Regions from separate parts of the Homo sapiens genome. Here region 2 is linked to region 1. The links come from fine-mapping of genetic effects on gene expression. Tissue or cell type: whole blood. Region 1 holds a variant in brackets; the other region holds the start of a gene. All regions are shown on one strand. Distances are from middle to middle.

Region 1 (2,752 bases):
GGCCACGTCTGTTGCTCTCTAAGGGGAGAAGGGAACAGAGAGGCCTGGGAAATCTCACTTGCCCAGTGGAACAGAGGGTACTGTCCATCATTCCCAGGAACAGTGCAATTCCCTGTGCTGTTGAAAAATCAGCAGTGAGTCCTTGTTCTGAACAACTGAGTTCAGAAGCTAGAAGCAATGATTCAGGGTTCTCTCCTTCCCATTTTATGGGTGAGGAGACTGAGGACCAGAGAGCAACTGGCCCTGGGTCCCGTGCTAGAATTTGGGCCTCCCGGTGTCAAGCTCAAAAGATGGTTCTGCTACAGTCCCGGGGTCTGTGCAGTTGAGGCAGTAGACAGAGAAAGCACACACATTTTTCTGTCCATCATGAAAATGACTTGTGGGCTTTATGGACTTCTTCAGCATGAGACCAAAATAGAGGGTCTCATTCACCATTTTTGAGCATCTACTCTGTGCAACGAACAGACCGCATTCATGAATGATTTTAAAAATCTTTACAGGTATCTTTGAAAATGGCAATTTACCTATTTTTAATTTTTTTTTTTTTTTTGAGACAGGGTCTCACTCTGTTGCCCAGGGTGGAGTGCAATGGTGCGATCTTGGCTCACTGCAACCTCCACCTCCTGGGTTCAAGTAGTTCTGCCTCAGCCTTCTGAGTAGCTGAACTACAGGCGTGAGCCACCACACCCAGCTAATTTTTGTATTTGTAGTAGAGATGGGGGTTTCACCATGTTGGTCAGGCTGGTCTCGGAACTCCTGGCCTCAGATGATCCACCTGCCTCAGCCTCCCAAAGTGCTAAGATTAAAGGAGTGAGCAACTGTGCCCGGCCATTTTTTTTTTTTTTTTTCCGAGATGGAGTTTCACTCCTGTTGCCCAGGCTGGAGCACAATGGCGTGATCTCCACTCACTGCAACTTCCACCTCTGGATTCAAGCGGTTCTCCTGCCTCAGCCTCCCAAGTAGGTGGGATTACAGGCATGTGCCACCACACTTGGCTAATTTTGTATTTTTAGTAGAGACAGGGTTTCGCTATGTTGACCAGGCTGGTCTTGAATTCCTGACCTCAGGTATCTGCCCGCCTTGGCCTCCCAAAGTGCTGGGATTACAGGCATGAACCACCGTGCTCGGCTCATTTTTTGTACTTTTTTTTTTTTTTTTTTGAGACGGAGTCTCGCTCTGTTGCCAGGCTGGAGTGCCATGGCGCGGTCTCGGCTCACTGCAACCTCCGCCTCCTGGGTTCAAGCGATTCTCCTGCCTCAGCCTCCCAAGTAGCTGGGATTACAGGCACGTGCCACCACGCCTGGCTAATTCATTTTTTGTATTTTTTTGTAGAGACAGGGTTTCATCATGTTGCCCAGGCTAGTCTCAAACTCCTGGGCTAAACCCACCTTGGTCTCCCAAAGTGCTGGGATTACAGGCATGCGCCACTGCGCCCAATCAATTTTAATGTTTTCAAAAGAATTAGATCTATTTGTTTGTTT[GTTTT/T]TTCAAACGGAGTCTTGCTCTGTCACCCAGGCTGGAGTGCAATGGTGGGATCTCAGCTTGGGGCAACCTCTGCCTCCCGGGTTCAAGTGATTCTCCTGTCTCAGCCTCCTGAGTAGCTGGGATTACAGGCGCCCGCCACTACACCCAGCTAATTTTTGTATTTTTAGTAGAGACAGGGTTTCACCATGTTAGTCAGGCTGGTCTCGAACTCCTGACCTCAGGTGATCCGCCCACCTCGGCCTCCCAAAGTGCTGGGATTACAGGTGTGAGCCACCGCGCCCAGCCTTATATTTTTTAATTACCAGAATCCTGAGTAATGGGCTTCTTTACAAAAGAGAAAATGGATGGTTAGACATGGTGGCTCATGCCTGTAATCCCAACAACTTGGGAGGCCAAGGTGGGCGGATCACTTAAGGTCAGGAATTCAGGACCAGCTGGGCCAACATGGCGAAACCTCTTCTCTACTAAAAACACAAAAATTAGCTGGGCGTGGTGGGGTGCACCTGTAATCCTAGCTACTCAGAAGCCTGAAGCAGGAGAATCGCTTGAGCCTGGGAGGCAGAGGTTGCAGTAAGCCGAGATCGACCCACTGCACTCCAGCCTGGGCAACAGAACAAGACTCTGCCTCAAAAAAAAAAAAAAAAAAAAAAAAAAAAAGGAAATGGAGGCATAGACAGAGAGGCAAGTGATGGGAATGGAGCTGGGATGTACAGTCCTGCCTGCAATCCCTCTTGAGCCCTCTGCCTCCCAGTGCCAGGAGCATCAGCCTCTCTCTGGGTCTGCCAGGGCAGGGGCAGCTCATCCCATATTCTCCACTGAGCTAGCACTGGACTCATGCTCAGCAGGTGTCTGAGATATAAATGAATGCTGAATGAATGGATGAATCTAAGCATATCATTTGCCTTCTTTAGGCAAAGAAGAAAGAAGAGGGCTTCTCAGCTCCTGGAGGAAACAATGTCTGTCTCTTTGGGGAATAGGAGCAGCGTGTCCTTAGAGACAAGAAGGGAGAACTGGTCTATCCAGTGCACTGCTGTCCTCCCCTGGGACAGGGATGACCCGCAACTGCCTTAGGCATGGGCTGGAGTCAGGCCAAATGGCTGAAGTGGCCCAGGATGGCTGTGTGACAGAAGATTGGCTCCTTGAGGCCAGAGGCAGAGGTAGTGACAGTCACAGTTGTACAGTTCAATCAGAAACTTGGCCAAGCCAGGAATAGGGGAATGACCTTTCCAACAGCTGAGGTTTCAGGGTGTGGTGTCAGATGGCTGGT
Region 2 (2,626 bases), 290 kb before region 1:
GAAGAGGAGGTTTCCTCGGAGGATGAACCATCGGCGCTGGTAGCTGAGGTTTCGGGTCCCCTTCTTTAGCAGAATGCCTTCCTGGTCTGGGGCCTGTGTTCTGTAACCATGGAAGAAACTGAGCACGGACTTTCTGTGCAGTTTTCATCGTGATCCAATATGGGAGGAAACCCCTAGGGAGAGAGAAGTGGCCCATCTAGTTGCCTGGGGGAAGAGTAGGGGAACTCTCATGCTGTCCTCGTCTGGCTTCAGCACGTGCTGCCTGCGCACAGTCTTGGCTTAGGGGGATGCAGGCTCCGAGTGTCAAGAGCTAGGGGTCCCAGCACAGGGGCTGATCCCCGCTACCTCCCCAATTCCCCCTTCTGCTTGGGCCACATTCCGCTACCTGGGCAGGAGTTGCTAGGCCCTGTTTGCTCAGGGGGGCTTCATGCTGCAGAGAGGCACTGTTGCCCTTTTCCAGGCCTACCTGAGAGCAGGGCACAAGGGGCTTCTGGCCTGAGTACTGGCGCCAATGCCACCTCTCCAGTGATGGCTCTCCCACCTCAGAAACCAGGAACTCGCCCAGGGTATGGGCGTGGGACAAATTATTTCCCCTGGGTCCTAAAGGGAGGTGTGTTCAGAAAGTGCCCGGAGAGCCGTCCAGGGGCCCCAGGCTGGCCATCGGGAGAGTCAGGCTTCCCCTCGGAGAGGCAAGGCTGCACCTCTCAGGCTAGGAGGGCTGACCACTGGACCATAGGAATGGGAAGGCAGGATTTCTAACGAGACGGTAGGGGCGCTGAGCCCTTAGCCCTGGGGGAAGGGTGACTTGAACCCAGGACAGGAAAACGGAGCAGCAACCCACTGACCCTGCTCGGACTTTGCCCCTCCATCCTGACCCTGGGCGGCCCTTTAAGCAGATGCGCTCCAGTTTTTCTCCAGAGCCTCTACTGCTTGAATGACGGACTCGAAGCTACTTCCGGCCATTTCTCACGCCCAGTCAGAGTCCAGGAATTCTTAGGTTCCCTCTTCTCACCATTGTCCTCCCACGTGACTGACGTCACTTCTGGCGGGAGAGAGGGTGGAGGCGTCTTCGCTCGCTTATCGCATACTTCCGCCCGCTCTTCCAGTTAGTTCCCTAACCCGAGTGAAGCCACTTCCGGGCTTCCCGGGCGCCTTCCGCAGTCCTCTTCCGGGTGATGGCGGCCGGGTGCCCCGGATGTAGCCCTGGCGCAAGCATCTCTTCTTTTTTCCACCTCGCCTTCCGCGGATTCCCAGGTGAGTGCGCGAGGGTGGGACCGCCCGAATCCCCGTGGCCCTCTAAGTTGTACACAGCCCGGGACAGTTGGGGCTCACCACACGGAATTGGGAGTTCGGAGCAGGGAGGAACGGGGTGGCGAGAGCGCCAGGTCCTGGGTCTGCCGGGGCCCGGCGAGCTCCGAGAGAGCCAGGGTAGAGAGCGGGGGTCAGCCCGTGGAGCCGGTGGCGCGCAGACTGCGGGGGCTGGAGTTGGGGGCGGTCACGTGGTGAAGCCTGTCTCCTTTCAGCCAGGGTCGGGGGATCCAGAGGGTCCGCTCCTCCGTCCCCGCCCCGTTTAACTCGCGGATGCTAGACCCAAGTCCTGGAGGCCTCCTGGCTGCCAGCTTCCTTTCGGCCCCTGCTTTTGTGCTCCCTCCGCTCCCAAACTGTACCTGTCACAGACCAGGAAAAATGTTTGCTGTGCTGCGTCTGTTGGCGAGTCCCCTCCTCACCCGGTTCCCTTCCTCTGCATCCTTTCCTCAGCTTGAGAAACACCTCTTTGCCCCGTCATGCCAAAGAGGAAAGTGACCTTCCAAGGCGTGGGAGATGAGGAGGATGAGGATGAAATCATTGTCCCCAAGAAGAAGGTGAGGGGGCCAGACTGCTTTGTGTGGGGGAAAGAGGAGCTAGAAGCCTGAAGAGGAAGAAAGCTGGCGGGAGAGGGGCGGGGCGGGCAGGCAGAGAAAAGCCTAGTTTTTTCAGGTTCTCTGAGGAATGGGTTGGGAGCGTCTTTAGTGTGGCTCCTGAAATATTTGGGGAAGTAGTCGAGATCCTGAAATATTTGGGGAATATTTGGGTCCAGATCCGGAAGTATTTGGGGAGGTAGCCAGTAACCTGCATTTCTCAACTTTCTGGCTCCTGCTCACAGCTGGTGGACCCTGTGGCTGGGTCAGGGGGTCCTGGGAGCCGCTTTAAAGGCAAACACTCTTTGGATAGCGATGAGGAGGAGGATGATGATGATGGGGGGTCCAGCAAATATGACATCTTGGCCTCAGAGGATGTAGAAGGTAAGCTGTACCCAAGAATACACTCTGCTGGAAAAACAAGTAGGGGCCTCTGGTGGTGTGGAGCGAGGGAGGCTCCGGTCTCTTTTTTCCATGCCTGGAAAAGGGCACCTGTGTCTTTGGTGCAGGTCAGGAGGCAGCCACACTCCCCAGCGAGGGGGGTGTTCGGATCACACCCTTTAACCTGCAGGAGGAGATGGAGGAAGGCCACTTTGATGCCGATGGCAACTACTTCCTGAACCGGGATGCTCAGATCCGAGACAGCTGGCTGGACAACATTGACTGGGTGCGGCCCAGGGGCTGGCGTGGCTGGGGCCTGGGAGTGGCAGATGCTGGGCCTGCTCCCG

The links. PIP is the estimated chance that this variant, and not a neighbour inherited with it, causes the effect.
Region 2: CD2BP2 starts here. The variant in region 1 is fine-mapped to the expression of CD2BP2 in whole blood (TOPMed, PIP above 0.99).

The regions. Positions count from the first base shown.
Region 1 is chr16:30,060,939-30,063,690 of GRCh38, reverse strand. The region is part of intron 4 of LOC112694756 (uncharaterized LOC112694756); the gene reads right to left. Among named protein-coding and RNA genes, the nearest start is that of ALDOA, 3.4 kb to the left of the region's middle. The variant GTTTT/T (reference allele first, on the strand shown) is at 1,482.
Region 2 is chr16:30,353,840-30,356,465 of GRCh38, reverse strand. It overlaps CD2BP2 (CD2 cytoplasmic tail binding protein 2), which reads left to right and starts at 1,158. Exons shown (of 7, transcript NM_006110.3): 1 at 1,158-1,254; 2 at 1,759-1,862; 3 at 2,144-2,282; 4 at 2,408-2,565. The coding sequence starts at 1,785. CD2BP2-DT (CD2BP2 divergent transcript) reads right to left here and starts at 1,032. Exons shown (of 2, transcript NR_184233.1): 1 at 846-1,032; 2 at 1-173. RefSeq lists enhancers at 987-1,046, 1,127-1,186, 241-1,192, 924-1,218, 909-2,108 and 1 more.